Linked DNA regions of Homo sapiens. The protein of the gene in region 1 purifies or fractionates together with the protein of each later gene. This does not show direct contact. Each region holds a gene or a part of one and is shown in the gene's direction. Other genes may lie near its edges.

Region 1 (4,095 bases):
TGACAAGGGCAGTTTTGTGTAGAGAGGGACAAGCCTGATTAGAGTGTGTGGAGAAGAGAGTGAGGACTGAAGAACTGGAGATGGCAAATAAAGACAACCGTTTTTGTTTTTTTTTTTGAGACAGGGCCTCACTCTGTCACCCAGGCTGGAGTGCAGTGGCATGATCTTGGCTCACTGCAGCCTCCATCTCTGGGGCTCAAGTGACCCTCCTATCTCAGCCTCTCAAGTAACTGGGACTACAGGCATGTGCCACCACACTCAGCTAATTTTTTTTTTTTTTTTTTTTGTAGAGACAGGGTTTCACCATGTTGTCCAGGCTGGTCTCGAACTCCTGATCTCAAACGATCCTCCTGCCTCAGCCTCCCATACAGGCATAAGCCACCGTGCCTGGCCAGAAAACTTAAAAAAACTGACATATAAATACAATAAATAGACAGATCTCAAAGTTACAGCCCAGTAAATGTTAAAATCTGTAGACACTTGTGCAGCTGCCACCCAGATATAGAACATCCTCAGCAACTCCTGGATGCCACCTGGTGCCCTATCCAACTGATATTCCCAACGGTAACCAGTATTTGTATTTCTATCATAAAGGATTCCTTTTGCTTGTTGGATGTAGACAACTTTTTTTTTCTTTTTTCTTTTTTTTTGAGACAGGGTCTTGCTCTGTCACTCAGGTTGGAGTACAGTGGCACAATCATGACTCACTGCAGCCTCGATCTCTTGGGGTTCAAGCAATCCTCCTACCTCAGCCTCCAGAGTAGCTGGGACTACAGGCCTGGATCACCACACCCAACTAATTTTTTGTAGAGATGGGGTCTCACTTTGTTGCCCAGGCTGATATTGAACTCCTGAGCTCAAGTGATCCTCCCACCTCAGCCTCCCAAAGTGCTGGGATTACAGATGTAAGCCGCCACACCCAGCAAGTTTTGAGAGATTTTGTTGACGGTTGGGCTCATTTTTTATAGGCAGATAATGTTCTAATGGAGGGGGTCCAGCTGGAGTTGAGACTCTGTGGGGTAGCAGGTCCTGGGCCAAATTTTCCTGGGTGCTGTGCTTGCTCTATCTCCACGGATTGCATGACCAGTTTCCTCATCTGAACCTTAATCCTCCTCCCCTTCCATGCCCTTAGAGTTGTAATGAATGGGGGCAATGGAAAATGGGATATTCTGAGCCTCTGGAAGCCTGCCAGAGGTCTAGAACTCAGTCACCAGGGATGGGTGGGGATAGAATCTGGGAGGCCCAGGAGTCCCGCCTGCCCAGCTATGTTTGAGCAACTGACCTGGCAACAGGGTGAGTCAGACAAACAGCCTAGCTTTCTGAAGCCTCCTCTGCTGTCTGTGTCTTCAGGTCATCATGGTGCTGCTCAGGCTCCTCGTGTTCCTCTTTGCTCCGGTGGTCTCTGGTGAGGAGGTGGTGGGTGGGGGAACCGTAGTTTTCCCTTGGAGTCCTGACCCTTCCCAGATAAGCTACCATGGAGGACAGGGATTGGGGGAGAGGTAGGAAAGTGTAAGAATCTGAACCCCTGGCCCTCACCCCTTCTCTTGGCCACTTCCTCAGTCAAGTTCTCACTCCCCATCTGTGAAATGCTGGATGCTGGATACAAGGAAAGGCCTTAGCTGCTTGGCCCCATGGCATGGCCAGGCCCTGTGGCAAAAGGACAGGACTATGCTAGTATGTGTGGTTCCATCAGCCTGGGGGCCTCCAGCCTGAATTCTCTGCTCTTCACAGACCTCTGCAGCCTGCCCTGCTTTATAAATGTCTCTGAGAGCCAGGGCCCTGGCACAGTCCTTCAGTTTTTATCCTTCAACTGCTCCTCCTACACGCCCACACCCACCCTGGAGTTGCTCAATGTCCAGCCACCCACCACCTTCTTCAACCCACCCAGCTTGGCCAGGTGGCAAGGGACCTATGTGGGCAAGGTAGGGTCATGTGTACAGCTGGGGACTGTGGGGGCACAAGGGCAGACCTAAAATTTCCAAGCCCCACATGGCACTGTCCACCCACCCCAGTTGACCTTGAGCAGCTCTGCTCAGTTGGATGCCCTGATGGTGAACCACTACAAGGTGCAGCTGAAGTTCACATGTGGCAACCATGTGATGGAGGGCTCACTCTCTGTGGATGTGCAGCGGGACCTTAGCCATATCCAGTGTGCTGGTCAATTTGCCAGCCCAGGTGAGGCCAGGGGCAGCCGGCAGGGTGGGGGCAGGCATGGCCTGAGCAGATCCTCCCTGACCTCCACTCTGGCCAGCTGGGGAAATGATTCAGGTGCCAGAGACAGTCACACCTGGGGCTCGGCTGTACACTCTGCTCCTCCCAGGCCTAGAACTCCACGGAGCGCAGGTAAGCCCAGAACATGGGACGGTGGGTGACAGGATGGGGGTGGGGGGATGGAGAGAATAAATTAACCCCCACCTGGCCAGGCACAGCCTGAAGAGGAACCTTGCAGCAGAGGCATAGATGAGCCTCTACATGATGTATGTTCTTGGAGAGAGCTGCTGAGGGCTGCTCACTCCCCAGTGACCATGGCTGTTCCCACAGGGACATCTCAGGGGCTGAGTTCTTTTTTTTTTTTTTTTTTGAGACGGAGTCTTGCTCTGTCGTCCAGGCTGGAGTGCAGTGGCGCGATCTCGGCTCACTGCAAGCTCCACCTCCCAGGTTCATGCCATTCTCCTGCCTCAGCCTCCCGAGTAGCTGGGACTACAGGCACCCGCCACCACGCCCGGCTAATTTTTTTGTATTTTGTAGTGGAGACAGGGTTTCACCGTGTTAGCCAGGATGGTCTCGATCTCCTGACCTCGTGATCTCCCCACCTCGGCCTCCCAAAGTGCTGGGATTACAGGCATGAGCCACCGCTCCCAGCCAGGGGCTGAGTTCTTTCAAGATCTGCTATGTGTTCTCAGTTCTTTATGACAATTCTGTATCATTTCTGTAATCAAAAAAAAAAAAAAAACAAACATGTAGGTAATGGCCAGGCACGGTGGCTCACACCTGTAATCCCAGCACTTTGAGGGGGCTGAGGCAGGTGGCCTCAGGAGTTCGAGACTAGCCTGGCCATCATGGTGAGACTCTGTCTTTACTAAAAATACAAAAATTAGCCAGGTGTGGTGGCGTGTGCCTGTAATCCCAGCTACTTGGGAAGCTGAGGCAGGAGCATCGCTTGAACCCAGGAGGTGGAGGTTGCAGTGAGCCAAGATTGTGCCACTGCTCCAGGCTGGGTGACAGAACAAGACTCTGTCTCAAAAAAAAAAAAAAAAAAAGTATTTAAAAACAGTAACTGGCTTGAAAGCAAAAAGGATTGAGGACTGCGGCCAGGGCTTGGGCTAGAAGTCAGGGAGCCCAGGCTGGGATAAGGGTCAGTGGTGAAGCATGAGAAAACTGGGTGTCAGGCTGGGCACAGTGGCTCACACCTGTAATCCCGCATTTTGGGAGGCCGAGGCGGGTGGATCACTGGAGGTCAGGAGTTCGTGACCAGCCTGGCCAACATGGCGAAACCCTATCTCTACTACAAATACCAAAATTAGCCAGGCGTGGTGGCGGGCACCTGTAATCTCAGCTATTCGGGAGGCTGAGACTGAAGAATCACTTGAACCCAGGAGGTGGAGGCTGCAGTGAGCCAAGACTGAGCCATTGCACTCCAGCCTGGGCAACAAGAGTGAAACTTTGTCAGAAACAGGAAGGAAGGAAGGAAGGAAAGAAGGAAAGGGAAGGGAGGGAAGGAAATTAGCCGGGTGTGGTGGCACAGGCATGTAATCCCAGCTATTCAGGAGGTTGAGGCCGGAGAATCACTTGAACCCAGTAAGTGGAGGTTGCAGTGAGCTGAGATCGCACCACTGCACTCCAGCCTGGGCGACAGAGAGAGACTCTGTCTCAAAAAAAAGAAAGAAGGAAGGAAGGGAGGGAGGGAGGAAGAGAGAAGGAAAGAAAGAGAGAAAGGAAGGAAGGAGAGAGCGAGAAGGAAAGAAAGAAAGGAAGGAAGGAGAGAGAAGGAAAGAAAGGAAAGAAGGAAGGAAGGAAAATAAATTGGGTGTAGGCAGGTGCCTGCTGGGTTGCTGGAGGGTTGCTGCTGGGTTGTCGATGGGGGTGCTCAGGGCA
Region 2 (3,500 bases), on another chromosome or scaffold:
GTGCTTTGGGAAGCTGAGGCGAGAGAATTGCTTGACCCCAGAAGTTCAAGATCAGCCTGGGCAACATGGTGAGACCTCGTCTCTACAAAAAATAAAAAAAAATTTGCTGGGCATGATGGTGCGTGCCTGTAGTCCCCACTACTTGGGAGGCCAAGGTGAAGGATTGCTTGACCCTGGGAGGTCAAGGGTGCAGTGAACCGTGATCATACCACTGCATTTCAGCCTGGGTGACAGAGTAAGACCCTGTCTCAAAAATAAAAATTTTTAAAAATTTAATGAATTAAGAATTCTCATAGATGTGTATGTATAGGAAAACAGTAGTCACGCATTGCTTAATGACAGGGATATAGTCTGAGAATTGCATCGTTAGGTGATTTCATCATTGTGCAAACATCATAGGGTGTACTTAAGCAAACCTAGATGGTATAGCCAACTACACACCTAGGCTATATGGTGTAGCCTATTGCTCCTAGGCTACAAACCTGTACAGCATGTTACTCTACTGAATACTATAGACAATTGTAATAGAATGGTAAGTATGTATATAAACATAGAAAAAGTACAGTACAAATACAGTATAAAAGGGCACATGAATGAAGTTCACAGGACAGGAAGTTGCTCTGGGTGAGTCAGTGAGTGGTGAGTGAATGTCAAGGTCTAGGACATTACACTATTGTAAACTTTATAAATACTGTACACTTAGGCTATACTAAATTTATTTAAATTTTTTTTTCTTTCTCCAGTAATAAATTTTTTTTTTTTTTTTGAGATAGAGTCTTGCTCTGTTGCCCAGGCTGGAGTGCAGTGGCATGATCTTGGTTTACTGCAACCTCTGCTTCCCCAGTTCAAGTGATTCTCCTGCCTCAGCCTCCTGAGTAGCTGGGATTACAGGCGCCCACCACCATGCCTGGCTGATTTTTTTTTTCTTTAAAGACAGAGTCTCACTCTGTTGCCCAGGCTGGAGTACAGTGGTGCAATATCGGCTCGCTGCAACCTCTGCCTCCCGGGTTCTAGCAATTCTCCTTCCTCAGCCTCCCGAGTAGCTGGGATTACAGGTGCACGCTGCCATGCCCAGCTAATTTTTTGTATTTTAGTAGAGATGGGGTTTCACTGTGTTGCCCGGGCTGGTCTTGAACTCCTGAGCTCAGGCAATCCACCCGCCTCGGCCTCCCAAAGTGCTAGGATTACAGGCGTGAGCCACCGTGCCTGGCCTAATTTTTGTATTTTTAGTAGAGATGGATGGGTTTTCACCATGTTGGCCAGGCTGGTCTCAAACTCCTGATCTCAGGTGATCTCCACCCACCTTGGCCTCCCAAAGTGCTGGGATTAGAGGCGTGAGCCACCATGCCTGGCCTCCAATAATAAATTAACGTTAGCTTACTGTAACTTTTTTACTTTATGAACTTTAAAATTTTAAAAAACTTTTTGACTCATTTGTAATAATGCTTAGCTTAAAACACATTGTACAGCTATACAGAAATATTTTATTTATATCCTTATTCTCTAAGTTTTTTTCTGTTTTTAGTTTTTTATTTTGTTTTCACCTTTTAGACTTTTTTGTTAAAAACTAAGCTACAAACACACATTAGCCTAGGCCTAGGGTCAGTATCATCAATATCACTGTCTTCCACTTCCCCATGTTATCCTGCTAGAAGGTCTTTGGGGGCAGTAACACTCACAGAACTGTTGTTATCTCAGATGATTGATAACAATGCCTTCTGGAATTCCTTGAAGGACCTGCCTGAAGCTGTTTCATTTTTTTTTTTTTTTTAGACAGAGTTTTGCTTATGTTGCCCAGGCTGGAGTGCAGTGGCACCATCTCGGCTCACTGCAACCTCCGCCTCCCAGGTTCAATTCTCCTGTGATTTTCCTGTCTTAGCCTCCTGAGCAGCTGGGATTATAGGCACCCACCACTACGCCCAGCTAATTTTTGTTTTTGTTTTTATTTTTTTTGGAGACAGAGTCTTGCTCTGTTGCCCAGGCTGGAGTGCAGTGGTGTGATCTCCGCTCACTACAAACTCCACCTCCCGGATTCACGCCATTCTCCTGCCTCAGCCTCCCGAGTAGCTGGGATTACAGGCGCCCGCCACCACACCCAGCTAATTTTTTTGTATTTTTAGTAGAGATGGGGTTTCACCGTGTTAGGCAGGATGGTCTAACACTGACCTCGTGATCCGCCCACCTCGCCCTCCCAAAGTGCTGGGATTACAGGTGTGAGCCACCACGCCCAGCCGACTTTTTTTATATAAGAGGAAGGAGTTATCTAATGATAATAATATAGTAAATACATAAACGCGTAAATGGTTGTTTATTAAATATCACGTACTATACATAATTGTATGTGTTATACTTTTATGACTGGCAGCACAGTAGGTGTGTTTACACCAGTATCACCACAAACAAGTAAGTAATGCATTGCATTATAAAATTACAACAGCTGTGATATCTTTAGGCTGTGGTGATTTTTCACCTCTATTATAATTTTATAGGACCACCATCTCTACAGTTCAGTGTTGACCAACATGTTGTTATATGGCACATGACTGTATATAGAGTTTATTTAGTACTATCCATGGTTTCAGACATCCACTGAGGGTCTTGGAACGTATTCTCCTCACATAAGGGGGGACTACTTTACTCATTTATTCAACAAATATTTATTGAATACCACGGATGTACCAAGCATTGTGCCAAGCTCTGAACATGGACTGTTTCATATAATCCTTACAACTCCTGTTTGAGATTATCTTATTTATTTGCATGTATATTTGGTACTTTGTTCATTCAGAAAATGTTTATTGCTCATTGTACTAGTGTGGGGGATTCTGCAGTAGACAAAACAAAGTCCCAGGCCTCATGGATTTACAATCTAGGGGAGAGATATGAGGGATAAATTCAAGTTCCTACTAGAATGTAAGTTCTCTGAAGGCTGGATTTTGTCTTGTTTACAAACTCATAGGAGCCTGGAACCTAGTAGGTGCTTAGCGAATGTTTGTGGTATAAATAAATGACTGAAAAATTCCACAGATACCTAACATTACTGTATTAGACCATTTTCACTGCTGATAAAGACGTACTCAAGACTGGGTAATTTATAAAGAAAAAGAGGTTTAATGGACTCACAGTTCCACATGGCTGGGGAGGCCTCACAATCGTGGCGGAAGGCGAAAGGCACATCTTACATGGTGCAGGCAAGAGAGAATGAGAGCCAAGTGAAAGGGGAAACCTCTTATAAAACCATCAGATCTTGTGAGACTTATTCACTACCATGAGAACAGTATGGGGGAAACGGCCCCCATGATTCAATTATCTCCCACCAGGTCCCTTCCACAACACGTGAGAAATATGGGAGCTACAATTCAAGGTGAGATTTAGGTGGGGACACAGCCAAACCACATCAATTATTTTCTGCTTTTTTCTTTTTGAGATGGAGTTTCACTCTTGTTGCCCAGGCTGGAGTGCAATGGTGCGATCTCAGCTCACAGCAACCTCCGCCTCCT
Region 3 (3,500 bases), on another chromosome or scaffold:
CTCGGGAGGCTGAGGTTGCAGTGAGTCAAGATCAGGCCATTGCACTGCAGCCTTGGTGACACAGTAAGACTCTATCTCAAAAAAAAAAAAAAAAAAAAGGTACCAGGAGTCATATTCTATGTCCCCCACTCTGGACCCAGCTCTGAGACCCTGCCTCTCTGGCCAGGGCTGTGGTGTCAGTGCTGGGCTCCTGGCTGCAGGACCACCCTCAGGATTTCCGAGACCACCCTGCCCATTCGGACCTGGGCAGTGTCCGAACCTTTCTGGGCTGGGCGGCCCCAGGGAGTGCTGAGGCTCAAAAAGCAGAGAAGCTTCTGGAAGATTTTTTGGAGGAGGCTGAGCGAGAGCAGGAAGAGGAGCCGCCTCAGGTGTGGACAGGTGAGGGGTTTTCAGATCCAGTCGTGTTCTGAGAAGGCCTTTCCTGTCTGCTTCTTCCCACACAGGCTTTCTCTCCCCTCTCAGAGCTACAAAACTTAAGCAAGATTTTAAACTCTAAGCCTCAATTTCTTCATCTTTACAATGGGGATAATAATTCTTTGTCAGCCGGGCGTGGTGGCTCACGCCTGTATCCCAGCAGTTTGGGAGGCCAAGGATGGTGTATCACCTGAGGTCAGGAGTTTGAGACCAGTCTGACAAACATGGAGAAACCCCATCCCTACTAAAAATACAAAATTAGCCGGGCGTGGTGGGGCATGTCTATAATCCCAGCTATTCGGGAGGCTGAGGCAGGAGAATCGTTTGAACCCGGGAGGCGGAGGTTGCGGTGAGTCGAGATCGTGCCATTGCACTCTCGCCTGGACAACCAGAGCGAAACTCCGTCTAAAAAAAAAAACAAATTCTTTGTCTGAAGTATTAGCATGTGTCTAATACTTTTCCCTCCTTGGTGCCGTTGGGTCAGGATGCTCTGTGTTTCTAGCTACAAACCATTGCCTTGATACTTGTCTTTATTTTCTTTTTTTTGAGTCAGGGTCTTGCTCCGTTGCTCAGGCTGGAGTGCAGTGTCTCCATCATGGCTCAGTGCAGGCTCAACATCCTGGACTCAGGTGATCCTCCCGCCTGGGTCTCCAAAACTGCTGGCATTACAGGCGCGAGCCACTATACCTAGCCTGTAAAATTTTTCTTATTTTTGAATTTCTTTTTAAATTTAATTTAATTTAATTTTATTTTTTTATCTATTTTTTTTTTTAGACAGAGTCTCGCACTGTTACCCAGGCTGGAGTGCAGTGGCACAATCTTGGCTCACTGCAACCTCCACCTCCTGGGCTCAAGCCATTCTCCTGTCTCAGCCTCCTGAGTAGCTGGGACCACAGGCGCATGTCACCACGCCCGGCTAATTTTTTTGTAAAGGTGAGGTTGTGCCATGTTGCCCAGGCTGGTCTCAAACTCCTGAACTCAAGTGATCTGCCTGCCTTGGCCTCCCAAAATGCTGGGATTACAGCCATAAGCCATTGTGCATGCGTAGCCTCCTTACTTGATTATTGGCTTTTGCTCATCTCATAGGCTGTGAGTGCATGAGAGGAGGACCTGTTGTTCTTGCTCCCAGCTCTGTCCCCAGGGGCAGGAACAACACAGATTAGTTTGCTGAATAATTGCATCCTGCTTAGGAAGTATCATCTTTCACCCATCTGTATTTGATCTGATCCACATCACAAAAGCATCTCTATCCCTAATCCCCATCGCTTAATCTCCAGATTATAGTGGCCACCTTCCTGTCCAATTTACAAAGTAGCAGCCACTTCTCTATCCCTGGTGACAAAGTCTCAGTTATTTATATATATATAAAGGTATATATATATATATATATATATATATATATATATATATGAAGGTGTATATATATATATATATATGAAGGTATATATATATATGTATATATATGAAGGTATATATATATAAAGGTATATATATATAAAGGTATATATATAAAGGTATATATATATATAAAGGTATATATAAAGGTATATATATATAAAGGTATATATATATATATGAAGGTATATATATATATGTATATATATGAAGGTATATATATATAAAGGTATATATATATAAAGGTATATATATAAAGGTATATATATATATAAAGGTATATATATATAAAGGTATATATATATATAAAGGTATATATATATAGGTGTATATATATATATATATATATATATATATATATATATATATATGATTTCTCCAGCTGATTCCAAGTCATTAGAGCTCCATAGTTCACTGTGGTATCCACTAGCCCCTGTCGCTATTTAAATTAATTAAAATTGGCTGGGCGCGGCGGCTCATGCCTATAATCCCAGCACTTTGGGAGGCCGACGGGGGCGGATCCCAAGGTTCGGAGATCGAGACCATCCTGGCTAACATGGTGAAACCCCGTCTCTACTAAAAATACAAAAAAATATTAGCCGGGCGTGGTGGCGAGCGCCTGTAGTCCCAGCTACTCGGGAGGCTGAGGCAGGAGAATGGCGCGAACCTGGGAGGCGGAGCTTGCAGTGAGCTGAGATCAAGCCACTGAACTCCAGCCTGGGTGACAGAGCGAGACTCTGCCTAAAAAAAAAAAACCAAAAAACAAAATTATAATAATAATTAATTAATTAATTAAAATTAAATAAAATTCAGGTCTTTTCTTTTTAGAGATGGGGTCTTGCCATGTTGCCCAGGCTGGTCTCGAACTCCTGGGCTTAAGCAATCCTCCAGCATCAACCTCTCAGAGTGCTGGGATTGTAAGTGTGAGCTACTGTGCCTGACCCTGCCCTTTTTTTTTTTTTTTTTTTTTTGAGACGGAGCCTCGCTCTGTCACCCAGGCTGGAGTGCAGTGGCGCCATCTCGGCACACTGCAACCTCCTCCTCCCAGGTTCAAAAGATTCTCCTGCCTTAGCCTCCCAAGTAGCTGGGATTATAGGCACCTGCCACCACACCCAGCTAATTTTGTATTTTTATTAGAGACAGCGTTTCACTATGTTGGTCAGTCTGGTCTTGAACTCCTGACCTCAGGTGATCCACCCACCTCGGTCTCCCAAAGTGCTGGGATTACAGGCGTGAGCTACCATGCCTGGCCCGCTTTTTTTTTTTTTTTTTTTCTTTTTCAAAATCCAGTCAAGCAAAGGCAAAAATTCAGGTCTTCAATCCCACTACCCACATTTTGAGTGCTCAGCCACCACACTGGACATAGCAGATAGATAATTTTTCCACCATTGCAGAGAATTATATGGAAAGTGCTGCCCTAGTTTCTTTGAGGTCAGAGGAGAAAATTAACATTTGTTTAAGACCTTCTATGTGCTAGGCCCTGGGACACACTTTATTTCATTTTATTTTATTTTATTTATTTTTACTTTTATTTTATTTTGAGACAGAGTCTCGCTCTGTCGCCTAGGCTGGAGTGCAATGGCGCGATCTTGGCTTACTGCAACCTCCACCTCCTGGGTTCAAGTGATTCTCCTGCCTCAGCCTCCTGAGTAGCTGGTACTACAGGCGCCCGCCACCAGGCCCAGCTAATT
Region 4 (3,500 bases), on another chromosome or scaffold:
TACATAAAATTCACTGTTACTTTTCCATTTGCACATAGGCTTAGTGAGACCTCCCCTCACCATCCTATTTGAAATAATTTCTCTTCCTGAACCCCTAAATCCTGTTTCCCTGCAACACTTTTTCTTTTTGCATAGCACTTAGCCCATTCTAACATGCCTTGTTGTTTACTTATTGAATTGTTTATCGTCTGTTTCCCCTCAGTAGAACATATGCCCCAAGATGGAAGGGTATCTGCTTTGCATATGTTTCCCGTCACCAGCACACCAGAGGCATGCCAGTATTGTGTGATTGAATGAATGAATGGGTGGATGGATAACAGCATTTCAGTTTAGACAGCGTAGTAGCTTTGCATCCTAATTTTCACTTTACAGATAAATGCTATATACTGAAAAAAATTACATAGTGTAAAGCAAACTTAAGTTTTTTTTTTGTTTGTTTTTGTTTTTGTGACAGAGTCTCATTCTGTCACCCAGGCTGGAGTGCAATGGCGCGATCTTGTCTCACTGCAACCTCCGCCTCCCGGGTTCAAGAGATTCTTCTGCCTCAGCCTCACCAGTAGCTGGGACTACAGGCATATGCCATCACACTGGGCTCATTTTTGTATTTTTAGTAGAGACAGGGTTTCACCATGTTGGCCAGGCTGGTCTGAACTTCTGACCTCAAGTGATCCGCCTGCCTCTGCCTCCCACAGTGCTGAGATTACAGGTGTGAGCCACTGCACCCGGCCCAAACTTAAATTCTGCAGTGTCGATATGGGAATTCATTAGTGGGTAAATTTTCAAGGATCATGGGGCCAGCCTCGGTGGCTCACCCCTGTAATTCCAGCACTTTGGGAGAACTAGGCAGGCAGATTGTTTGAGCCCAGGAGTTTGAGACTAGCCTGGGCAACATGGTGAAACCTTGTCACTACAAAAATACCAAAAAAAAAAAAAAAGTTCAAGGATCAATTCTGTTGGTTGCAGTATTGGGGATATTAGATCATGAAACTCTGTCTCAGCCTTTGAAGGCTGTAGCTCTGTGGCTACCCCTGTTAGTCCCTTTAAAAATACTATAATTTTCAGCTTTTTTGGGAAGATGGTTTCTTAATTTGTTACCTCGTTTTTTCAGAAGTAACGATGTGGAAAAAAGTCGTTCGAATATAGACCTCAGTATTACCCATAGTCTAACATTTTTAATACTGAAAGTAAATAACATTTATTTCTCAAAGGAGACCTATAACTGCTGAAGAAATAATAAAATACGAACAATTTTGAATATATTCCAATTTTAGAGCATTCACTCGGTTAACTGGAACCTTCAGTTAGCTGGAATTCGTCCTTTGGCTGGATATTTCTTTTGGGAGAAAAAGCATGAAACCAAGCAGTTTTATAGGAATTATTTTTCAAAAGGAAGGTTTAGGAGGTCATAACATACATTATCTGTGCCAGTATTTGATATTCAAGCCAAAAACGCAAATAATATTTCAGTTTTAGTTATGAAGAATATGACCAAAAAATGAAATTTTTGTGGGATATAAAATATTACATTGAAAATAGAAAATGCTGTAATTTCGTAACACTAGCTGCAGGACTTAGTGAAGCTTATTAAACCAAGTCTAAATGTTTAAAATGAGGAAGCTGAGATAGGTTAAAATTTTAGAACAAAGGAAAAAAAGTACTGAGTTATTTTTATTATTGCTTTCTGAGACAGGAAAGTATGTTTTTTAATTTTTTTGGGTAGTTTTCATTTATAAGAGTTGAAACAAAATAGAGATCTGATTATCCTAAAAAACCGCCAAGAGTCTATTTCTTATGTATTCTGGTTGAGGGCTTAGATCATTAAAACTTGTTTTTTTAGTGGGTCTTAATTTGGTGTGAAGACTTGCTTGAAGGGGCCGGGTGCGGTGGCTCACACCTGTAATCCCAGCATTTTGGGAGGCCAATGTGGGTGGATCACGAGGTCAGGAGATCAAGACCATCCTGGCTAACACGGTGAAACCCCATCTGTCTCTACTAAAAAAAAATACAAAAAATTAGCCAGGCGTGGTGGCAGGTGCCTGTAGTCCCAGCTATTCGGGAGGCTGAGGCAGGAGAATGGCGTGAACCCGGGAGGTGGAGCTTGCAGTGAGCCGAGATCGCGCCACTGCACTCCAGCCTGGGCGACAGAGTGAGACTCCGTCTCAAAAAAAAAAAAAAAAAAAAAAAAAAAGAGTTGCTTGAAGAAATATGTCTTTATAAGTGAAATTTAAAATGTTGATTTGCTACAAAATACGGATTTTAGTAGTGTTTCAGGACTACAGATTCAAGATTGGTGGAAATTATTTATGCAATGTCATGTTCGTGCATTAAAAAACAACCAAGGCCTGGCGCGGTGGCTCATGCCTGTAATCCCAGCACTTTGGGAGGCCAAGGTGGGTGGATCATGAGGTCAAGAGATGGAGACCATCCTGGCCAACATGATGAAACCCTGTCTCTACTAAAAATACAAAAATTAGCTGGGCATGGTGGCATGCATCTGTAGTCCCAGCTACTTGGGAGGCTGAGGCAAGAGAATTGCTTGAACTCGGGAGGCGGAGGTTGTAGTGAGCCGAGATCACACCGCCGCACTCCAGCCTGGCGACAGAGTGAGACTCAGTCTCAGGAAAAAACAAAAACAAAAACAAAAAAAAACCCAAACGGCCAGGCATGGTAGCTGACACCTGTAATCCCAGTGCTTTGGGAGGCCAAGATGGGTGAACTGCTTGAGTCCAGGAGTTCGAGACCAGCCTGTGCAACATGGTGAAACCCCATCTCTACTAAAAATACAAAACAATTAGCTGGGCATGGTGGCATATGCCTGTAGTCCCAGCTACTCAGGAGGCTGAGGCTGGAGAACTGATTGAGCCTGGCAGGTTGAGGCTGCAGTGAGCCAAGGTCACACCACTTGCATTCCAGCCTGAGCGACAGAGCAAGACTCTGTCTCTAAAAAAAAAAAAAAAAAAAAGCCAAACTAACAGACCCTCAAAAGTGACATTTTGAGGCTATGCAAAGGCCATATATAGGAACCCTTAAATGGCGACAGCCTCCCCACTGTGTCAGCCTGACATACAATACCCGTCTTTTCCCTAAGAGCTGCCACCACCCGGGAACTAGAATGCTGCTTTCAGTTGTCCCTGATTTGATAGGTTCTTTCTCTCCTATGTTTTAGGTATATTTTTGCTCATTTTTTGATTTAGCTTTAGGATATTATTATTAGATTAAAAATTTTCACAAGATCTGTTACTAAAGTTTTTATTTTTAAAGATTCTTGGCAGAGATTCACGTACTTCAAAGTAGCAGAGTTTAAAGCAGCTTAAATGCCTATAAAACATCTGAAAGTTGGCTGGGTGCAGTGGCTCACAACTGTAATCCCAGCACTTTGGGAGGCCGAGGCAGGCGGATCACCTTAGGTCAGGAGTTCGGGACCAGCCTGACCAACATGGAGAAACCCCATCTCTACTAAAAAATATAAAATTAGCCGGGTGTGGTGGCGCATGCCTGTA
Region 5 (3,500 bases), on another chromosome or scaffold:
ATTTTCTCTTGGCTTCTTTGCAGTCTCTGTGTGAGGCTTACAGTCATTTTTCACGTTTGACTCTTCAGAAGGAAGACAGGGCTACTGGTTCTACATCTGGAACTCTTTTCCCACAACACCAACACTGAGAAATGTGACATGGTGCTGTGTTTACATTTGCATAGGAACTTGCATTATAAGTTTTATTTGTTGAGTTATTGGCTTTTTTTTTTTAATAACCCACATCAGTATATAGAACTTTGCAATAGGCATTTTTGTTTTAACTTCATTTCTGGTGCAGTTTTATTTTCCTACCCTTGTCTTTCTATTTTCTCTTTCATCTGCTTTAGACTTAAACTGTGTTTTATGTATTGCTGTAAGCCTCTTTAAACCCTTTCTAAAACAAAGCAGGGAATACATAAACAAATAGTTTTTTGTTTTTTGTTTTTTTTTCTTTGTAACAGAAATCGACTTAAAGCCTCCAGAGAAGTAGAATCTGTAGACCTTCCACACTGCCACCTGATTAAAGGAATTGGTATGTATATGAAAATGCTTGTTGGGCACATTGCATTTTTTGGCCATTAACATTAAAACACTCATTAATGGCATTTTAGCATGAAATTACTGCTTTTCAGTGGATAAATCACATTAGATCAACAAAAACCTCTTTGGTCAACCTCTTGATCTGATGAACCCTGTATTTATTCTTCTTTCCTACCCTCACTGTAAATTATTCTTTTTTGTGTGTAATTCTATGTTTAGCATTTGATTTCTTGCTTGTTTTGTGACTTCTCTGAACTATTTTTGTTGCGTCTGTATTGTTTGTCAGGTATGGCCGCTGCAGTCTGTGTTCTGTGAGCCTTGTGGTCAGCTAGTGAAGGAAGCTTTATGTAGGCAGTGACAGCATTTACCCTGCTCACTACTCTATAACTAGGATCTGATCTTATGGCTAACACGTAACTGACCAATATGGTTTGGTTGTGTCCCCACCCGAATCTCATCTTGAATTGTAGTTCCCATAATCCCCACGTGTTGTGGGAGGGACCCAGTGAGAGGTCATTGAATCATGAGGTGGTTACCCTGTGCTGCTGTTCTCGTGATAGTGAGTGAGTTCTCATGAGATCTGATGGTTTTATAAGGGCTTTTCCCCCTTTTGCTCGGCACTTCTCCTTGCTGCCGCCATGTGAAGAAGGGTGTGTTTTCTTCCCCTTCCACCAAGATTGTAAGTTTCCTGAAGCCTCCCCAACCACACGGAACAGTGAGTCAATTAAACCTCTTTCCTTTATAAATTACCCGGTCTCAGGTATGTCTTTATTAGCAGCCTGAGAACGGACTGATGTACCGGCACTTCACAATATGTATTGTAAAAACTTGTTTTTATTTTATCTTCTAAGCTATGACTGCAGAGGGGGAGTCTCCCTCTTCCCTTGACTTTATGTAGGATGTATTGTGGAGTCTGAGTCTTTGAGTAGGGGTTCCTAAGAGCAAGCCCCAATTTTGCTATAGATAAGGAGGGATCTGTCCAGATTCTTCTCCAGCACTGAGGGTCTCTCTGGTGTGTTTGCAGTTTTTCTCCAAGGTAGAGTCTGTGTCTTGCTGTCTTTTACCCTTTATCATCTACTAAGTACATGTCCCTAGTACATAATAGACTAGTAGTTAGATTATCAATGAACAATAAATATTGGCTTTCCTTTTTTTTAAATTTTAATTTTTTTTTTTTTTTTTTTTGAGAGGTGGCCTCACTTTGTCACCCAGGCCAGAATGCAGTAGCGCAATCTTGGCTCACTGCAGCCCTGATATCCTGGGCTCAAGCGATCCTCCCGCCTCGTCCTCCCAGGTAGCTGAGACTACAGGCACATGCCCCCACTCATGGCTAGTTTTTTATTTTTGTAGAGACAGGGTCTTGTTATGTTGTCCAGGCTGGTCTTGAACTCCTGGCCTCAAGCAATCCTCCCAGCTTGGTCTCCCAAAGTGCTGGGATTGCAGGCATGAGGCACTGAGCCCAGCCAATATTGGCTTTCCTTAGATATGGTTCATGGTATGATTAGAAACAAAAAGAATTAGCAGTCAAAACACCTAGTTTCTAGTTCTATTCTGCCACAATGTAACCTTAGGCAAAGTTGGTTTTTGTATTTGTCACCTATAATGATGAGTTTGTGATTAGACTAATGGTTTTTAGACTTTAAAAAGCCTGGGACCATTTATTTATAATCTTACTCTGAGAGCCACAGTGTGGAAATAACTAGACTGTCATTGAGTCACTTCTAGTCCTTTACAACAACATCCTTCTCTAGAGGTAGGAGAGACAATTTAATATTTTGTTTTACTCTTTAGAAATTAAAACTCGGGTTACATGGAAATGTTCTCTTCTCTGAATAGGTAACATTGTTAAACAAGTTTTGAGTGTCCTTCCATCTTTTTCTTTTTATGAATACTCCTGTACATAATTTTTAAAAACATAAGTGAGGTCAAATTATGCATAATATTTCAAAACTAGCTTTTTGTACTTAATACTAGGTTTTGGAAACTTATGTTTGTACATAATGTTACCTTTTCTTCACAACTGCACAGTATTTTTTGTGCAAAGTTCATATAAACAGTGTATGTGCAAACAATATAGAAAGATATAAAATGGAAAGTAAATAAAAATAAAAATCTCTCATCAAACTCTTCATCACCCCCAACAGAAATAACCCCAAAGATAAAGCTCCCTTTTTTATCTTTCCTGATAGTTTCAGTGCATTTGCAAACAAATATATTGACTCTTTTTTTCACAAATAGAATTTTAGTGTAAATATTTCACAACCTTCTTCATTCCTAAAACAGTGTGAGCAGCTTTCCACATCAGCATATATAGTTACTTTGTTCTTTTTAATATTTTCACATTCCATGATTTATTTAACCATTCCCCTTTTAATGTACATTTGGGTTGTTACAGTTTTTTGCAACTATGAACAAATCAGTGAACATCATTGCTGTTGAGTTTGTGTGTCTGTAGAATATGTCCTTAACAATGGGATTGTTGTTCCCTTAGAATATGTGTTTAGAGTTTTGACAGTCATTGCTAAGTTGCTCTCAATTTGGCAACAGTAATAAACTCAGTACCTCATAGTTGTAACCACATTCACTCCAGACAGAGTTCTCAGCACTCTTTTAGTAAAAATAAACCATCAGTTGACAGTGCCACCTTCAGAGTTTCTCTACAAATACCTTGCTTGCCTCCCTTTCTTTTTTTCTTCTTTTAAATCAGCTTCCTCAGGTTGATCTGCCTCTCATTCCTTAGGCATCTGTTTCCTATGTGTTCTTTCTCCTTTTTTTCATTGATACTTTTGTATTTCCCCAGTTCTACCTCCCCTCCCCTAGACTGGTTGGCTGTCCTGGAATTTCCCTTCCTTCTTTCAATTGCCCAAACACTAAGTGGGAGGAGGCAAACTCATATCAAATAGCAGATTGACTACATCTGTGCTGGATCATGCAGACAGTTCAAGAGTCCCAAGTAACTTAGCAGCTTCATCTTGCCT
Region 6 (3,500 bases), on another chromosome or scaffold:
CTTTCTTCCTATGGCCCCCCAATCCCCAACTCAGTGTTCTCCATCAATGTAGGTGAATCTCTTTATATGCCTGTTGGTAGTCCTTATCCTATTTTACTGTGAGTGTTAAGTGTCTGCTTTTTCCACTGACTGGGAGCTTCTTGAGGTGAAGTATCTCATACTTAGATTTTTATCCTTTATTTGATGAATAATGCAGCAACTAGAAAGAATGCCTCAGTTTAAACATATTGCTTGTATAAATAAGAAAGATGTGTTTCAACAGCACATTCTTTAAAAATCAGAAATCTGAATAGCAGAAATAGAAAAAAAAGACAGTAAGAGCATTCGAAAACTTTAATTAGGAAAAACAAACTATAGTTGAAAATATCTTTACTTATAAAGAAGTCAGCTGATCTACAAAACAAAGTGTGCTTCTAGAATCTTTGGGAAAGAGTCAATTATATAAGTCCCTATGTGAGGAGGAGGAAAAATGTCTCCTCTTTTCATATTCCTATTTTAAAGAAAGAAAGAAAAAGGGAAGGTAAATTAAGATGTATATGAAAATTCTGTGAATTTGATGATTCCAGGTTATCTGATGAGCTTCTAATGATTCCTTAGTGGTATTATAACTTCATGTGAATTCACTCATAAAATTATATGTTCTTGTGATAACAGTATGTTTCTTAAAGAGTCAATATTGGTTTTATAAGCAGACTTAACGCTGGTACTTTTTCAGGTGTTTTATTATATGTCATTCTCAGGCACTACAATTTTTGCATAAGCTCATATCCCAGATTACAATAGATGTATTCTTTATTGATTGGGAGCGACCTAAAGGAAAGGTTCTTAAAGCTGTTGAAGGTAACTGAAATAAAAAATATTTGTACCAAAATTCTTTTGCTACCCTTGCAGAGCAAAGGAGGTAAAACTCTTTTACTCATTTTATTTTCCTGACCAGGTGAGGGTGGTGTACGAAGTGCCACTGTTCCTGTAAGCATATGGAGAACATATTTTGTAGCAAATGAATGGAATGAAATTCAGACTGTGAGAAAAATTAATTCACTCTTTCAAGTACTTACTGTCCTCTTCTTTTTGGAGGTATAAACTGTTTGATGTGATTATATGCGACTTACATGTACCTTATAAATATTAAACTAATATAATTCCAACTAAGTTTTCATGACAGTGGAAGATTTCTCTAAAGGTTGAAATATTGTTGTGAAGCCATTAAAAAGGAGTACCTTTATGTTACGTATTTTACCACAATTCTTTTTTTAAGTTTACCATCTTAAGCATTTTTAAGTGTAGAGTTTAATAGTGTTAAGTTGGCCAGGCACAGTGGCTCATGCCTGTAATCCCAACACTTTGGGAGGCTGAGGCAGGCGGATCACCTGAGGTTGGAAGTTCAAGACCAGCCTGGCCAACATGGAGAAACCCCGTCTCTACCAAAAAATACAAAATTAGCTGGGCATGGCGGCACATGCCTATAATCCCAGCTGCTCGGGAGGCTGAGGCAGGAGAATTGCTTGAACCCGGGAGGCGGAGGTTACAGTGAGCCGAGATTGCACCATTGAACTCCAGCCTGGGCAGAAAGAGCAAAACTCCATCTCAGAAAAAAACAAACAAACAAAAAGTAGTGTTACGTACATTCACATTGCCACGCAAAATCATCATCACCATTCATCTTAGAACTCTTCATCTTGCAAAACTGAAACTCTATACCCCTTAAACAACTCTGTACCCATTCCCTGCTACACCTAACCCCAGGCAACCACCATTCTATAATACTTTCTGTCTCTGTGTGTTTGACTGCTCTAGGTGTAAGGAGTAGCTTTAAAACCACTGGTTTGTATCAGAATCCCTTGGGGATCTTTTGTAAAATACCTATGCTCAGGCTCACCCTTAGAGACTATGTGTTGATTTAGTAGCTTTGAGGTAACTCCAGGTATCTATATTTTGAAAAAGCTCCCTACCCCCGATCCATATTCTCCCCTGCATTAGAATCACTATTATAAGTTTGATATTTTTCAACAAATTTGTATTGAACACTTACTGTAGACTATGTTCTGTGCTAAGAGCTGGGGCTACACTGAACAAAACACAACATGTTTGTGATACATATGCAGTTATTTCATGGATTTGGTTGGAATTATTAAAGGAAGTATTCAGTACTGAGTATAAGACTGAACATGGAAACAGTTTATATGGGAATAGGTTTTCTCAGGAATTATCTGCTTAATTAAGATTGAATATAAATCATTAACTCTTAGGTCTGTCTGTCTGCCTTCCCTCTTTTTTCTTCTTTCTTTCCATTCTCTTTCCCCTTTCCCTTCCTTTCCTTTTATAAAACTAGTAGAAGAATGTTTGTATCCCTAGGGCTTTAAAATAATATGAACAAGACTTCCAAAGTTCACTTGAAGTGGTATTTTGGTTTTTCTTAAATGGACAGATAAAAATTACATATGTTTATAGTTTACAATACAGTGTTTTGATATATGTATTCATTGTGGAATGGCTAAATCAAGCTAGTTTATCTGTTACCTCACATCTTTTCTTTTTGTACTAAAGTAGTGTGTGTGTGTGTGTGTGTGTGTGTGTGTGTGTGTGTGTGTTTAAGAGTTTCCTCAGCTTTAAAAGGTGTTATGTGAAAAAGTTTTATGGTCAAGTAAGTTTGGAAAATATTGGATTCAGTATAATCATGTAGCACCTTTTACTGTAAAACTTCTCAGAGCCTTTATTCTACAAGGGTGGGAGGCATGGAGGTGAGTGTAATGGATGGACCAAAAGTATTTAAACATAGATTCTTTTTTCAAGAACTTATGTCCTTTAGAAGACATTTTGTAATATACTGTTTTAAAGTATAAAAATGTTTAGTACAGTGCCTGGCACATGTCAAATACTCATGAAATACTACTTGTTGGTTTCACTCATTGGTAGTTTACTGATGAAAGTTTTATCCTTTTAATTAAATTTTTAGTCTTGTCAGTGTGTATGACAATAAGGTTATATTTGGCCCTTAGTCATATTGAGAAGAATGCCAAATGAGCTAACTAAATATTGTGTAATAAATACTTTGTAGTTAAAATACTATATAATAATTATTTTTATCTAGATTTTCTACTGTTTATACAAACTTAGATATTTTAGTTTTTCAAGGTGAGTAGGGAGAGGTTTTCTGTTTTCAGTCTAGAGTAGTTTTCTTTATCCATGTCCGTTTAAATTACTACTTTTCCTTTTTACTCCAGGTTGTGGGATTCAAGAACTTAGCATTAATGGACTCATCTTCTAGTCTTTCTAGAAACCCACCTAGCTACATAGCTCCTTATAGCTGCATTTTGAGATATGCAGTGTCTGCTGCTCTTTGGCTAGCCATTGGAATTATACAGGTAAGGAATTATACAGGTAATATTACTTCTAAGTAACATTGCTTCTTTATAACTCTGCCTAATTACTGATTATCATCAAATATTGACCACATCCTTCTTTCTGTAGCAGAAAGAAGGTGACAAGAACAATAGCTA
Region 7 (3,500 bases), on another chromosome or scaffold:
ATCACAAAATGCCCTCATCCATGACCATTAAAGATAGGTCACATTTTTGCAATGCCAGCAATTTTGCATAAACAGACTCTGTTTTCAGGTTTGCTGAGGTGCTGGATATTTGGAGGTGAGAGATTTGAGGCACTCGATTTTCTGGTAGGAACCAGCACAGACCATGAGTCTCGGACTTCGTGCCGAGGTCTGCTGGGTCCCAGGCTGAAGGATGCATCGTTTAACTTTTTTTGTCTACACGGGTCTTGCGCATCATGTGCTACTGATTTTAATGTGAAAATCCCTACGTCAGCGGGTCTGGTTGGAGTCCCGTTGGTCTGGATGTTTCGGGAGAATGTGAGAGGAGAGGGGAGCAGGCCCTGTGCTGGGTGCAGACCCGTCTGAGTGCGCTGAGAAGACGTCAGGTGAAGGCCGGGGTAGCCGGGTGTCTTCTTTCTTCTGTGTCCACCTTCATTTTGTCCTCTTCCTCTTTTTGCCCAGTGTCTTCTGAGTGGGTGGAGCCAGGCGTGCCCACCAGATGCGGGTAGCATGTGCTAGGCCAGGACGGCCCCCAGGCTCAAGTCGGCCTCCTCCTGGGCAGAGGTGGGTTGGCCGCCTGTCCCCAGCTGAGTTGTGGCTGTTCCCCTCGCCTGCTCAGATGAAGGCAGTGCTGTCAGAGGTGACCAGAGCCCGCTCCCTCGACCTTCAGGACTCCCCGAGAGGGAGGCAACGTGTCAGGACGGTGTATGTGGAGAGAGGGTCGAGGCTCGGTGCCTGAGCACGGGCAGGAGGACAGTGGCCTCGATGCCAGAGACGGGAGGGAGAGACGTGACGATGAGGCTGCATAAGAAGAGAGCTGACTGTAGCTGAGTGTATCAGCCACTCACCGAGTCCAGTTTCCACACAGCACGATCATCGTGCCCTTGCCCACACACGTGTTAGATGAGCTTGTGTGAGCTTTATGGGCTGTAATTTGTGAGTCTGTTCTGGGTGTGTGATCCTGGCAGCCGGCTAGGCCTGGCCACTCGTGACCTGGGGCCTTGTCGGGGTGGGGAGAGGGTGAGGAGGGGTGCACCCTCGACACCACCCTCTGATGTGGCCTGCAGCCTATGAAGAGTGAGGTTTGGGGGCCCAGAGTGTGAGTCACCAGCGGTAAATGCAAACCATATGTGATGCATTTTCTCTGCTGCAGAAAGGGTTTCTGGTGACTCGCTCAGGCCAGGGCTCTGGAAACAGCATTGCTTATTTCACATAAAAATCCTAAGAATGTGGGTGAACCTGTCTGAGATCTGCGTAATAAAACACTTAGTTGAAGTCACCGGGTTAGTTCCAGGCCCACTTGGTTATGACGTGGCTGTTAGCCACGAGCTGGCATTTACGTTAAAGTGTTGAGAAGCGTGAGGGTTTTGATGTTTCAGTTTCTTGAAAATATAACTGTTTCTACTCAGGACCTGCCTCTCCAAGAGTGTAGCACACTTCATTTTTTTCTGTTTAGCATGTATGAGGGTGAACTTAGCTTGCTACTCACACACTACTCACCCTGTGGAGGAAGTTCGCCTCGCTTTTGTGGTGAGTCTTGCTGTAATGATAGCTTATATTTACAAATACCGTCGGCAGTGCAGGGTCTTCAGGCTTGCAGAAAACGGTCAAGTCATTACTTTGAGAAATGTACAAACATCTATGCTTAATGAGGTGCTAAAAGACAAAACTCATCTACAACCTCCTTCCCCCCAAACTGCCAACACTCTGGATTAACTTAAAAGCTGCTCTCTGGGCAGGTTGCATCCCAGGGCTCCTCCTTCACACGTGGTGGGGCCCCACCTTCGCTTTACCTCTAGCGTCCCAGCCCTCGTGGTCATCTGGAACCAGGGTTGGTACACAGGGCCTGCTGGCATTCCTGTGATACTCCGTGATATTCTGGAGGAATCCATCCCTTCCCTGGGGCTCCATCCCACTGCCCCAGCACCTCCAGCCACCCTGATTCAGGGACATCGCAGAGATTGGTGTTTGACGCTACGGCAGCAGAGGCGCAGACTCTTGAGTGTTGGAGGGTGTCTGGAGGGCCTGGGGACAAGCACCGCCTGCACTCCCGGGAGCTCGGCCCCGCCCCACCATGGCTCTTGGTGCAGGTGCACTGGAAGGAACTGGGTGGGGCCCTTGTGCCGAAGGGCGGAGATGGCGCCGGCCTGCCTCACGGGCAGGGGTCCGTGTGGCACCTGTGGCCGGCAGCGGGTGGGTCCAGGAGCCGCCATCATTTGGAGCGGGTATCGTCCTCACTGACTCTCTGTGGGTGCGGGTGGGGTGTGTGACGGGAGCTCCGGGCCTGGCTGACAGTGTCTCTCCTCTGCAGCGGGCTGACGCACGAGGCACACAGGAAGGAGGTGGAGCAGGTGTATCTGCGCTGTGCGGCGGGTGCCGTGGAGTGGATGTACCCAACAGGTGCTCTCATCGTTAACCTGCGGCCCAACACCTTCTCGCCTGCCCGGCACCTGACCGTGTGCATCAGGTCCTTCACGGACTCCTCGGGGGCCAATATTTATTTGGAAAAAACTGGAGAACTGAGACTGCTGGTACCAGACGGGGACGGCAGGCCCGGCCGGGTGCAGTGTTTTGGCCTGGAGCAGGGCGGCCTGTTCGTGGAGGCCACGCCGCAGCAGGATATCGGCCGGAGGACCACAGGCTTCCAGTACGAGCTGGTTAGGAGGCACAGGGCGTCGGACCTGCACGAGCTGTCTGGTGAGTGTCCTGCCTGGGGCGGGGGCGGCGGGCCTCGTCATCACGGGGCTGGTGATGTGGCAGGTGTCTCTGATTTCTTCCTGTCCCCTCGTCTGCTCAGCCTTGGTGAAAACCCTTCTGTGTCTGTGCTTCGGACATGACTGTTTTGCCTGAAGAGCCCCCCAGGTGGCTGGGGTTGGGGGACACTGGCGCCCGCAGAGGGGCCCTCCTAGGGGGTGTGACATGGTGTAGGGGGGTGTGGGATGTCTAAACTAAACCATCTTGGAAATGCAGCCTTTCCAACTAAAACCACCTTTGAAAAGACTGGCCCATCTGGGTTAGTGTTTCGGGCGGCATGGCCTTGGCCGAGCGGGGCCTCTCTCCCTGGAGGTGTGTCTGGGGAGCATGGTGAGCATCCCCCTGTGGCGGCCGGGCCAGTGCTGGGTCGGACGCGCCCCCATGCTTGTGGATCGTGTAGCACCTTTGAAACGGGTGCTTTTGCCATTCAAACTGCCCTGGGAATTGGCTGGGTGTCTGTGGTGTCGGCTAAAGACCCTGAAACGTCCATTTTTGGGTGGGAGCTGAGGCTGGCTCAGCCCTGAGCGGTGCTGAGCTGTGACGCCCAGAACATGGGGCCACCCCCGTCCCAGAGGGGTCTTGTGGGTACGATAAACAGACAGCTTCCCTGTGTGGCCGGCAGGGAGTGGAGGTGTCACGTGGCGTCTCTGGACGCCTGTGCTTGGGGGAGAGGTCCTTCGTGGAGGGCTGTGTTGGTCTCTAGAAAATTCTGTGGGTAGACACCAGGA

The links.
Region 2: the proteins of CDHR4 (region 1) and EDEM2 purify together in Homo sapiens (affinity purification with mass spectrometry; one large-scale study listed by BioGRID and IntAct). This does not show direct contact.
Region 3: the proteins of CDHR4 (region 1) and RGL3 purify together in Homo sapiens (affinity purification with mass spectrometry; one large-scale study listed by BioGRID and IntAct). This does not show direct contact.
Region 4: the proteins of CDHR4 (region 1) and CLSTN1 purify together in Homo sapiens (affinity purification with mass spectrometry; one large-scale study listed by BioGRID and IntAct). This does not show direct contact.
Region 5: the proteins of CDHR4 (region 1) and PON2 purify together in Homo sapiens (affinity purification with mass spectrometry; one large-scale study listed by BioGRID and IntAct). This does not show direct contact.
Region 6: the proteins of CDHR4 (region 1) and TMEM67 purify together in Homo sapiens (affinity purification with mass spectrometry; one large-scale study listed by BioGRID and IntAct). This does not show direct contact.
Region 7: the proteins of CDHR4 (region 1) and METRNL purify together in Homo sapiens (affinity purification with mass spectrometry; one large-scale study listed by BioGRID and IntAct). This does not show direct contact.

The regions. Positions count from the first base shown.
Region 1 is NC_000003.12:49,797,074-49,801,168, reverse strand, and holds the start of CDHR4 (cadherin-related family member 4 precursor), read left to right. Parts: upstream 1-1,295; 5' UTR 1,296-1,350; coding exon of another isoform or gene 1,351-1,356; coding exon 1,357-1,405; intron 1,406-1,731; coding exon 1,732-1,922; intron 1,923-2,012; coding exon 2,013-2,175; intron 2,176-2,251; coding exon 2,252-2,343; intron 2,344-4,095. UniProt on the Homo sapiens protein: Cadherins are calcium-dependent cell adhesion proteins. They preferentially interact with themselves in a homophilic manner in connecting cells; cadherins may thus contribute to the sorting of heterogeneous cell types.
Region 2 is NC_000020.11:35,126,837-35,130,336, reverse strand, and holds part of EDEM2 (ER degradation-enhancing alpha-mannosidase-like protein 2 isoform 1 precursor), read left to right. Parts: intron 1-3,500. UniProt on the Homo sapiens protein: Involved in the endoplasmic reticulum-associated degradation (ERAD) pathway that targets misfolded glycoproteins for degradation in an N-glycan-dependent manner.
Region 3 is NC_000019.10:11,412,815-11,416,314, reverse strand, and holds part of RGL3 (ral guanine nucleotide dissociation stimulator-like 3), read left to right. Parts: intron 1-166; coding exon 167-378; intron 379-3,500.
Region 4 is NC_000001.11:9,817,466-9,820,965, reverse strand, and holds part of CLSTN1 (calsyntenin-1 isoform 1 precursor), read left to right. Parts: intron 1-3,500. UniProt on the Homo sapiens protein: Postsynaptic adhesion molecule that binds to presynaptic neurexins to mediate both excitatory and inhibitory synapse formation.
Region 5 is NC_000007.14:95,421,529-95,425,028, reverse strand, and holds part of PON2 (serum paraoxonase/arylesterase 2), read left to right. Parts: intron 1-443; coding exon 444-514; intron 515-1,340; exon of another isoform or gene 1,341-3,500. UniProt on the Homo sapiens protein: Capable of hydrolyzing lactones and a number of aromatic carboxylic acid esters. Has antioxidant activity. Is not associated with high density lipoprotein.
Region 6 is NC_000008.11:93,796,394-93,799,893, forward strand, and holds part of TMEM67 (meckelin isoform 1 precursor), read left to right. Parts: intron 1-740; coding exon 741-840; intron 841-937; coding exon 938-1,077; intron 1,078-3,224; coding exon 3,225-3,365; intron 3,366-3,500. UniProt on the Homo sapiens protein: Required for ciliary structure and function. Part of the tectonic-like complex which is required for tissue-specific ciliogenesis and may regulate ciliary membrane composition.
Region 7 is NC_000017.11:83,082,609-83,086,108, forward strand, and holds part of METRNL (meteorin-like protein isoform 1 precursor), read left to right. Parts: intron 1-2,329; coding exon 2,330-2,715; intron 2,716-3,500. UniProt on the Homo sapiens protein: Hormone induced following exercise or cold exposure that promotes energy expenditure. Induced either in the skeletal muscle after exercise or in adipose tissue following cold exposure and is present in the circulation.